Linked DNA regions of Homo sapiens: region 2 is linked to region 1. Evidence: fine-mapped expression QTL. A gene starts in region 1. The other region holds a variant in brackets. All regions are shown on one strand. Distances are from middle to middle. Region 1 holds the start of KRT72 (keratin 72). Region 2 has its middle 10 kb from the start of KRT2.

Region 1 (5,376 bases):
TTGCCCTGGAATTGGTGGGGTGTCTTACATTCTGGGAACTGCCATGGAAAACTTCACTCAGGAGGAACTACAAAGGCATTTGGGTTGTCCATCTGGTTTTGATACAACTCTCTTTCCCCCATTCCTTCATTTTCAGTGCTAGAAATTGAGCACACATTTCCTCGACAGTTTGGAGAACCGGTGTAGGTAGATCTATTCTTTTCCTAGTTCCATTCTGTCTGGATGTTCCTCCCTCCCCCGGTATCAGCAAGGATCTCAGAAGCAAAAATGCCATCTCCAAACGAAAACCTCATTTGAAATCAGATCCTCCAGGGCCATATTCCCTGCCACTCACTCACCTCTTCTTGTAGTCCTCCACCAAATCCTGCATGTTCCTCAGCTCCGAATCCAGCCTCACCCCGTCCCCAGACAGCATCTCCAGCTGCTTCTGCAGGTTGCTGATGTAGCCCTCATAAATGGGCTCCAGGTTCTTCCTGCAGTTGTTCAAGTCCAGCTGCTGTAGGAGGTTCCACTTGGTCTCTAGCACCTGATTCTGCTGCTCCAGGAACCGCACCTGGAACCCAAAGGCAGTCATCGCCCAGAGTCCCCATGTTGTTGCCTCTCAAGAGTGGGGAAAGGGCCCCAAAAACCAGAGGCAGCCATCCTGGGGGACTGGGGGTAGGAGAAAACAAGGCTTATCCCGGGGTGGATTCAGCCGAGGGACATGCTCACCTGGATCTCCAAGACAAGAAATAGGACCCGGTCTATATGGAATCAGGAAGAGGGCTTAAGCAATGGTACCATCTGCCTCTGCCTCAGTGAGTTTTCATGAGACAGAGGTAGCTTCTCATGCTATAAATGCTGGTGTTTTCTGAGTAAAGAGAAATGGGGAGCAGGGGAGAAACAGGGACTGGGGAGTGACATTGGAAAGCACACTGGCATTTAGAGCGTTCCTCCTGTTGTGTAGCCTAAATTGCACTTGGTTTGTTCATTTCTTTGTTGTTCACAGCAAGTTACCACATCTTCACAAAGTTCCTTCATACTTGACCAGGGTGCACATTTTTAGACTCAATAACTCCAAGCCCTCTGCCACACACCAGCATTCCTCTTCTCACCTATCTTTCAGCTTGAGGGGCAGAAGGAAACATGCTAGGGAACAACAGACATAAAAGAGCAAGAGAATGCTCTGGCCTCTGGAATAGCTGCTGTGTTTCTTCCATGCAGACCTGTGCCCTCCCGCCACCTCAATTCCTCTTCCCTAGCATAGTGGTGACACTCGGTCCACCACCAACTGTCCTGTCCAAGGTGAGCTCATTTCTTAGCCTCCCATGTCTTAATATCCTCATCTGCAAGGCAGAACAACAACAGAATCATGGGTTGTGATTGTAAATGAGAATCACTTGGGACGGCACCATAAATGTCAGCTATTGTTATCAGGCTGTCCCCTTATCACTCACCGTCTAGACCTTCCATCCAGGTGGAGACAAGAGAAGTCCATTCCCTGTCTCCTCTCCACTCACTGGGGTCATTGCCTCAGAAGCTCCAGAGACAACTTCCCTATTACCCCAATTTCTGGATGCCCCACCCTCAGCACACACCTGTAACTTTACATGCACTCTTTCCAAGTGCCTCCTCAGCCTCACCCTTCAGTTTTCTGGCCCTTTTCTCTCACCTCCTCTATCATCTTCCTGGCTACACACTTACCCCACTCCTCAAGCACCAAGCACCATGTCCTGCAACGTCTCTTGGCCTCTGTTCCTAATGCCCTGCCCTGAATGTGGGTCCCATCTCCTCTTCTGATATTGGGAGCTCTCAAAGTGCCCATTCCTTGGACATCCTGACCCCTCCCTTCTCACAGTCTTGTCTCATGCAAGAAAGAAATGAAGGTCCTTGATACGTTTTGGCTGTGTCCCCACCCAAATCTCAACTTGAATTAAGTCTCCCAGAATTCCCACGTGTTGTGGGAGGGACCCAGGGGGGAGGTAAATGAATCATAGGGGCCGGTCTTTCTCCTGCTATTCTCCTAATAGTGAATAAGTATCACGAGATCTGATGCGTTTATCAGGGGTTTCCGTTTTTGCTTCTGCCTCATTTTTCTCTGGCCGCCGCCATATAAGACGTGACTTTGGCCTCCCGTTATGATTCTGAGACCTCCCCAGCCATGGAGAACTGTAAGTCCAATGAAACCTCTTTTTTTTTTTCCCAGTCTCGGGTATGTCTTTATCAGCAGCATGAAAATGGGCTAATACATCCTGTTTATTGGAAGTATGTGCCAGGCACTGTTCTGAGCACTTCGTAAACATCCCAATTAAGCCTCATCGCAACCCACTGGAGTAAGACCCATTATTGTGCCCATTTTACAAATGGAAAAGGGAGGCTCGGAGAGGTTATGACCCGCCCACGCTCCCACACAGCTCGCCAGTGGCAGAGCCAGCACCACTGTGCACATGCGCCCAACGCAGGGACAGGCCAATGCCCGAGGACTCACCTTGTCGATGAAGGAGGCGAACTTGTTGTTTAGCGCCTTGATCTGCTCCCGCTCCTGGGCGCGCACCCTCTGGATCTCGGGGTCCATCTCCACGTTGAGCGGGGCCAGGAGGCTCTTGTTGACGGTGACCTGAGGGATGCCCCCGGGTGGGCACACGGAGGGACACTTGGGCCCCAGCCCGGCGCTGCCGAAGGCGGTGCCCACGAAGCCGCCCAGGCGGCCGCCGCCCCGCCGTGCAGCAGCGCTGAGCGCCAGGCTTCGGCTGCCCCCAAGGCAGGAGAGGCTCTTGCTGCCAAAGGAGGCCGAGCCCTTGACCCGGGCCCGGAATGAGGCGGAGCTGCTGCCGATCCCGCCAGAGAGGACCGCGGAGCAACCGCTGAAGCCCAGGCGCTCCCCGCGGGGGAAATGGGTCAGTTGGCGGCTCATGGCTCGCAAGTACCGGTGCTGGCCGCGCGGGAGGCAGAAGGGGCGCAAACAGCCGCTGCGTTCTCGGCCCAGCTCGCCCCTTAAATAGCCTGGCTGGCTGGAGTCAGCCTAATTTGTATGTCGACAACACCTTTTAGATCCCTTGAGGCCTCTTGGGTTCTTCATGTAGGAAATTACCATGCACTCACCGAGATTTTTGTCTGTTCCACCGTGAACTCCCCATGAATCCCTGTAAAGTGACCCAGAACCCAGCATTTACTTGGCTCACCTCCTGCATTATCATGGCTTAGCGACCTTATCTCCACCTGCTGGCCTCCAATTACTGGGGTTATCACTCCCAAGATCACCCCTGGAAACTTCCAGTGGGGCTGACCCTCTGGGTGTGTGTCTGGGGAGACGGAGGTGTGTGAAGCAGAAGTCCAGGCTGCTTCTGCTTCAGAAGGCCATGAATAGAGTCAAGACTATCGCAGAAAATCATCCTTAGCCTGTCCTCCTCCTGCCTCCCAGGCTTCTGGATGAGGACAGCTCTGTCCCTTGTGCAAGAAGGAAGTTCAGAAGGAGGAGATTTTGGCCCCGTCTGCAGAGACCTCTCAGTCTGTTGGAGAAGGCAGGACACAGAGACCTCTGGTCACAAGTGTTGAGGGTTGACTTTGGACCAGAGCGAAAAGATTTCTCCACTAAGCATTTCTGGACTAAGAATGGGGACCATGCTATCTGGGAGGGAGGGAAGAAGGCCTGGGGAGGTGGTACAGGAAGACTCAGGCATGGTTTAGCAGATGGTGTTTCCTAAGGCTTTCGGTTGTTTTCATTTTTGTTTTCTTTTAATAGCAGAAGAGGCTTATTTATCCCATCCAGCAAACCTCTGCTCAGGTCATTTGCCACCCAGTCATTTCTGATTCAGCATCAAAATGTGATCAGTTATTAGGAAGAGGTCAAGACTCTTCAGATCTAAAACCAAGAACTAGATTCTAGAACTTCATTCCCTTTAAGCTACAGAGGCTCCTTCTTCCACCTAACCCGATTTCCTTTTCTCAAACTTAAGCTGCCTTCAAGTCTCCTCCTCTCTTAGCAACAGCTCTCCTGTTCCTCTGGCATGCAGGTGGGATTATTTCATTGCTCTTATTTCTTAAGCTGCCAGAGTCCTGGGTGTGTGTTCCATTTCCTCTATCAGATTGACAGGGCCCCCTGGATTCACCCTTCCCTCCTCTGCTCCCCCAGTGCTCAGCCCAGGCCTTGGCCAAAGGGACATTTAGGATGATTGTGAAACAGCAGAGTGCTTAGGGCAAGGCTTGTTACTGCACCTTCAGTGATACCCTGAAGGCTGGGTTCCCCTTGGGGACCTCATGGGTTGGTTAAATGGTACCTGGGGGTAATTGGCTGACATAGCCTCCACTGGGCCAATGACAGGACATAATAACAGCCGAAGCGTTTACTCCACGGGGAACAAAGTTGTGAGGGCATTGTTAAGCGCTGGAGATGGCACCGATCACAGATGAACAGATAACGGCATCTGGGTGTCCTAGGTGGGAGAGAGGGTGGGCTCTCAGTGCTGCCTCAGAGGAGGGGCTGTAGTCCCTTCCCTCTGAAGAGGAGAAGGGCAGTGTCAGTGTGGCTGGGTGACAGCAGACCCTTCAAGAAGATCAAGGTTATGTTTTTTATTATTACATGAGATTTTCCCTCTACCCCGTAATTTTAGCCAGTTTTTTTTCCACAAGCACAAAAATGAATTTATTTATTCCAGCCATTGAGAATAGAAAAGCAAGGAATGGATTACACTGAAAGAGGAGAATTTTTACGTAGGATTGACTGACAAAGGGTGTCTTTGAAATAATTTTTTTTTTCTTCCTAGAAATTTTCTAAGGAGTTGAGATATCCTGGGACCAGGGCTCTTCTGCCCAGGGTTAGGGAACTGTAAGATGACCTTTTCTCATCTTCCTATGAGGGGTTGACTGGCTGGATGAATAAGGAATTCCTCAACCCCTGAATCACCTTTATTACAGATCATGAGGAGACACAAGTGACACATGCAGATTTCAAAGGCCTCAGATGTGTGGGGATGTCAGCAGATCAAAGGGGGTTGAGGCCTGGGAGGAGGGGTTCTCATTGCCTCTGCCTCTGACAGCAGCTTACGGTGTCACCTCAGGCCTTGGTGACCACCTCTGTCATTAGTTCTTGGGTTAAAGCAACCCCTGGATTAGTAAACCAGACAAGGAACATTGCCCTTAGAAATCAGATCTTTACTACAAAAGACGGATGAAACCACTCTAGGCTGAGAATTGAAAATGCATTGCTGGTTAAACTGGGTCTCCTTGCCCTGTAACACTACTTCTTGGGAAGTTAATAGGTATCATGGGAAAAAAAGATATGGGAATGGATTCTGTGCTTGGTTTAAAAAAAAATGAAGCAGGCATCTTATTGCAGGACTTTCTAGGCCCATTAACATGCTTAGTGCTAGAGCAATTTTAGGGCAGTGAACTATTCTG
Region 2 (5,376 bases), 41 kb after region 1:
GACCCACACATATGTCTCCATTGATATTTGACAAAGTTGCCAAGGTAGTTCAACAAGTAAACAATAGTCTTTTGAACAACTGGTGCCCAAACAACTGGATATTTACTTGGGGGAATAAAATGAACTTGGACCCTTACCTTAGACCATACCCCAATGGCCACTTAAAATGGGGTATAGACAATGTAAACACTAGAATTATAAAACTTCTAGGATAAAAGTTTGTATTGTAGGAGAAAATGTTTGTGACCATTAGGTAAGCAAAGATTTCTTAAGACACCAAAAGTCCAAACTATAAAGAAAATTTGATAAATTAGAATTAATCAATATTAGAAAATTCTGCTGCTTGTAAGATGCCATTAAGAAAATGACAAGAAAATCCACACACTGAGTGAAAATATTGACAATACATATACCTGACAAATGACTGTTATCCAGAGTATATAAAGAACTCCTGCAACTATGTATGTCAAACTGCCCAATAAAAACTTTCACAAGATTTGGACAGACCTTTCCTAAAACATGTACAAACGCCCAATAAGAACCAAAAAAAGACACTGCACATCACAAGTCATCAGGAAAATGCCATTAAAACTACAAAGAGATAACATGCACACCCTGTAGAATGAAAAAGACTGGCAATGCCCAGTGTTGGAGAGGAGGTACATCAACCCTAAGAAATCCTAGAATAGGCAAAACCAGTCAGTGGTATCGACAAGGAGATCAAAAGTTGGCTGGGGGCATAGGGTAACTCATTGGAGTAGTGGAAATCTTCTATATAAGTATTGTGATAGAGGTTATAAGGATGTATACATTTGTTTAAAAATATTGAGGTATATGCTTAAAATGTAATACAATGCATTTTCTTATTTATAAGTGAATCCTCATTAAAGTTGACTTTAAAATAAACAGCATGCACATTCGAATGTGATCTGTAGTAAATTTTAATTTACTGGAGTTCAACAATGCATTAGATTAACTCAGCGTTCTGCACTTTGAACTACAGCTTCCCCTGCCATCTATCTTTCAATGGAAAGTAATCAGAAATTTCAAGTCTAATTAGTTACAAATATCATTACCATTTACACCCATCTATCTGTATAAATCAAGATTTTCTCAATACAGAAATATGTTGACTAATAAGATACCTTTGGATTTTCTACATATGCAATCACATCATATATTAATAAATCAGTTTTATTTCTTTCTTCCTATCTGTAGGATTTTATTTATTTTTCTTGCATTATTGCACTATTTAGGAATCCCAGTACGATGCTGAATAGGAGTAGTGACAGCAAATACGCTTGCTTGTTCCCAAGAAATGCTTGTGGGAAAAGCATTGACTTTCACCATTAAGTATGTTAGCCATGGGTTTTTACAGATGCCCTTTATCAGGCTAACGAAGTTCCCTTCTACTCCTAGTTTAAGAATCTGTTGTTGTTGTTGTTGTTTTTGTTTGTTTGTTTGTTTTTACCATGGAGGGTGTTGAATTTTGTCAAATGTTTTGTATCTATTGATACAGTCTTATGTTTTTTTCTTCTATGTCAATATGGTGAATACATTAATTCTTTGAATGTTGAGCAAGCTTTTTATTTCTGGGATACATTTTAAACATATACCTCACTATTTTTAAACAATATTTTTAAACACATGGTCATGATGTATTATCCTTTTTATATCTTTCTAGATTGAATTTGCTCATATCTTGCTGATAATTTTTGAATATATATATATATATATATATATATATATATATATATATCCATGAGGGATTTGTTCTTTAGTTTCTTCCATTAATGCTGGCCTTATAAAACAAGATGGAAGGTGTTTCTTCTTCCATCTTCTGAAACAGTTCGTGCAGAATTGTTATTACTCTTTAATTAATCCCACCTATCTGCCAGTGCCTGGATATAAAGTTATCTCATCCATGAGGTCTTCTCCGGTCCCAAAATACTGCCTGTAACTTACAATAATAATAATAATGTAACCTACAGTACTGCATGCTTATGATGGCACAGGTCCTACAGAATAAACATTTATCATTGATTTCAGTGTGTAAACCTCCAGCAATCCTCTGAGGAAGCTGTTGTTGCTACCTGTTTACAAATGAGTAAAGAAAGGCTCAGAGTTGTTAAATAACTTGCCCAGGGTCACACATTCTTTTATCTGATCATCAACTTTTCATTTAGTGCCTACTAAATTCCAAGGTGCCAGCAACTGAGCCCACCCCAGAGCCCGCTCCCTTAGCATGTCCATCAGTGCTTTCCAAACCATGGCCCTTGTGTCACCAGCATCAGAATCACCTAGGAGGTTGTTAAAAATGCAGATTTCTAGACTCCTCTGTAGTGGAAACTCAGGGAGAAGGAGGGGATGCTGGAACAAAGAATATGTATTTTTAGTAAGGGCCGCTTAATGAAATTAATGCACACTACTACATTCTGCCTTATGTTAATAGCTGTTTGCAAATTTCTCATTCTTCCCCTACTAGACCATAAATCCCTGACAGGACGCACTGTCTTATAAGTCTTGATACGCCCACGTAGCCACATGCACAACCTTGCCCACAGTCATTGTCCAACAGGCATTTACTGAACTAGAATGAAAACCACTTTGAGCTTCACATGCTCACACCTATTCACAAAGGGTCTCTCTGGATATCCTGACAGTGTCCCAAATCCCCTGTTGGGCTGAAAGGCTTTAGGAGTAAGCACTGGCTGACCCGGTAGCACAGACAGGGTTCTTTTCATCAGAGCTGGAAGGATCTGTAGAAACAATCTTGGCCACTGAAAGTCCTTAAAGTGAGGCAGAAATTGAGCCAAGAGAGGAGAAAGGACTTGCCCAGTGTCACGCAACAGTTCCCACAAAGATGAGGATCAGCATTGAAGTCTCCTCACTCCCAGGGCACTCCTTCCCCACTTCACAGCAAGAAAAGGAGGCAGGAGTGTTCCATTTAGGTGGGCTTCCTGGAGGAGGTGAGCTGTCCTGAAGGAGGTGAAATGTCCAAAGGAATTTCCTTTCAAATGACAGGAAAGAAAGAATTTGGTGAGGAAGAGAAAAAGGGTTTATTTGAATTCATACTAAAACTCACAGGCAGAGAAAGGGAGGGAACCACAAGAGGGAGGATGTCCCAAATATTCT[G/A]CAACATCATCAGAACGGAAATGTTTAACCCAGTTCCCTATGGAAATCGAGCTCGTAAAACCCTTCTGCCTGTGCCTGTCTCCTTTTTGAAGCCCAGGACCTGACAAGTCAATTACCAAATTTGGTGGAGGAGCAGCAGAGGGCCCTGGTGGGAGGGTGTGGCCCAGATTCTGGGCTACTCTACACTTCGGAGGGAAAGGAGGGTCCCTCTCCAGAGGTAGCCCCTCTCTCCAATACCTGCTTAGAGCTTGATTTCTGTCACGCCTCAGGCCTGGGTCCCTCTGAGTTAATGTACAAGGCTAATTTTACTACTGGAGTCCAGCAAGAAAGTAGCATATATATGATCTGGAAACCAGAAGGGCTGTGTCTCAGGTGGGGAAGGGATGGGGAACTGGAAACGATAGAAGGAGCTAGAGGTTCAGACCACTGAAAGTCTCAAGAATTAAGGCCGGGTGCAGTGGCTCACGCCTGTGATCCCAGCACTTTGGAAGGCTGAGGCAGGCAGATCACTTGAGGTCAGGAATTCGAGACCAGCCTGGGCAACATGGTAAAACGCCGTCTCTACCAAAAATACAAAAATTAGATAGGCATGGTGGTGCATGTCTGTAATCCCAGCTACTCGGGAGGCTGAGGCATGAGAATCACTTGAGCCGGGAGGCGGAGTTTGCAGTGAGCTGAGATCATGCCACTGCACTCCAGCCTGGGCAACAGAGTGAGACTCCATCTCAAAAAAAAAAAAAATAGAATTAAGGCTCCCCTGGGAATAAATCTGCCACCTTACCTGCCTCACCTCTTTTCCCCTCAGAAAGTTATTAGAATGGATTGCTATTCCCAAAGCCTTTTAAAAAATGAATAAATTGGGAGTGGGAGACCTGGTTTCTGTGTCCACCCTGGGCCTTACCTTTTTCCTCACCTAAGTGAAAAGTTCAAATACACTGATTACCAAAGCTCCTGTCCAGCCTCAAATGTCTGGGACCAAGTCCCTGTTAAAGGTTGTGTTCATGTCTACACTATGTACATACCCGAAAACAGCCAGCTCCTCACACCACTTCTTCCCAACCTGCACCCTCTCCCCACAGACCTCTCCCCACGACTGAGGCCTGGGTGGTTCTCAGGGACCTTCTCTGATCAGCGGATCACTTTAGAATGCTCAGCCTGGAGTCTTGCCACCTTGCCACCTGCAGCCTTCAGAGCTGTTCCTGCAGCACCCTCATACCTGGGTCCTGGCTGGTCTGGAGGCAAGTGAATGCATCTGTTCTCTATTAGAGCCGTCCCTGCAACCTCTGGGAACAGGAAGACGGTCACAGACTCAACTAAGGACTCTCCAAGGTTTTAAAGCTGGGGTGGAGTGGGAGAAAAAAGGACCCTCCAGGAGTGGTTCTGAGTGGCTTTAAGCCACAGCTACTATAACCAAACGCCACATACAGAAAGCTAAGCTGACCTAGCCTGAGCCACCAACTCCCATTTGGGCAACTCTGGCCTGTCTAACACCAACCCCAAGCATGCCCAATCCCACCTGCCCAACCATTCCTGAACTCCCTGGAAGCCCTGCTCAGGTGACATGGCCTTCCTGAGGAAGGGGCTGAAGGCATCTTCACACCCACAGGAGAAGGCCAACCTGATGGCAACATCCATGCGACAGGCCCCGGGGGCTGCGGTGAGAGAGGAGAGAAGGGCTTGTTTGCTGAGTGTGGTGGGACTCCGCTGACAGGAGGGGTGTCCTGTGAAAATAGAAGTGGCTGTTTTGGAGGCCACTTTAGAGTCCTCCAGACTCTTCCCAGGTATCCTCCTCCAGGCTTGCTCAGAGCCCCCGCAGAGACAGAGGCCAGGACCTACATCAGGCTGAGGAAGGTCTGCCTTGGAAGCTCGGAGCTTGGAAACTCACCACGATGGTGCCAGGGGCTCAGCGGTTTTGCCCTGAGGAGAAGTGATCCCGGGCCAAAGCCTTTGTGGAAAAGGGAGAGGGCAGTCTGTGGGAAATGCTCAGGAAGAATGGGTTTTTCTAGAAAAGAGACTCTTCCACAAATCTACCTGTCCACCTCCCGGCAATGCCATGGCCCTCAAGTCTGGTAAATACTTTCTGAGAACCACACACCCATCCCCAGGCTCCCATTCATCCAGAGGCTGGCGCCTGGGCTTCCCTCAGGGAGGCACGCTCCTCACCCAGGAGCCCCTCCTTAATGCCCAAACCTCCCTTGTCCATGGCTGCCCACTTCCACCAAGGTTTGACATCACGCAGAC

The links. PIP is the estimated chance that this variant, and not a neighbour inherited with it, causes the effect.
Region 2: its variant is fine-mapped to the expression of KRT72 in unexposed skin (GTEx, PIP above 0.99).

Annotation. Positions count from the first base shown.
Region 1 is chr12:52,598,560-52,603,935 of GRCh38, forward strand. KRT72 (keratin 72) reads right to left here and starts at 2,904. Exons shown (of 9, transcript NM_080747.3): 1 at 2,468-2,904; 2 at 339-553. The coding sequence starts at 2,893.
Region 2 is chr12:52,639,171-52,644,546 of GRCh38, forward strand. No RefSeq gene overlaps it. Among named protein-coding and RNA genes, the nearest start is that of KRT2, 10 kb to the right of the region's middle. The variant G/A (reference allele first, on the strand shown) is at 3,136.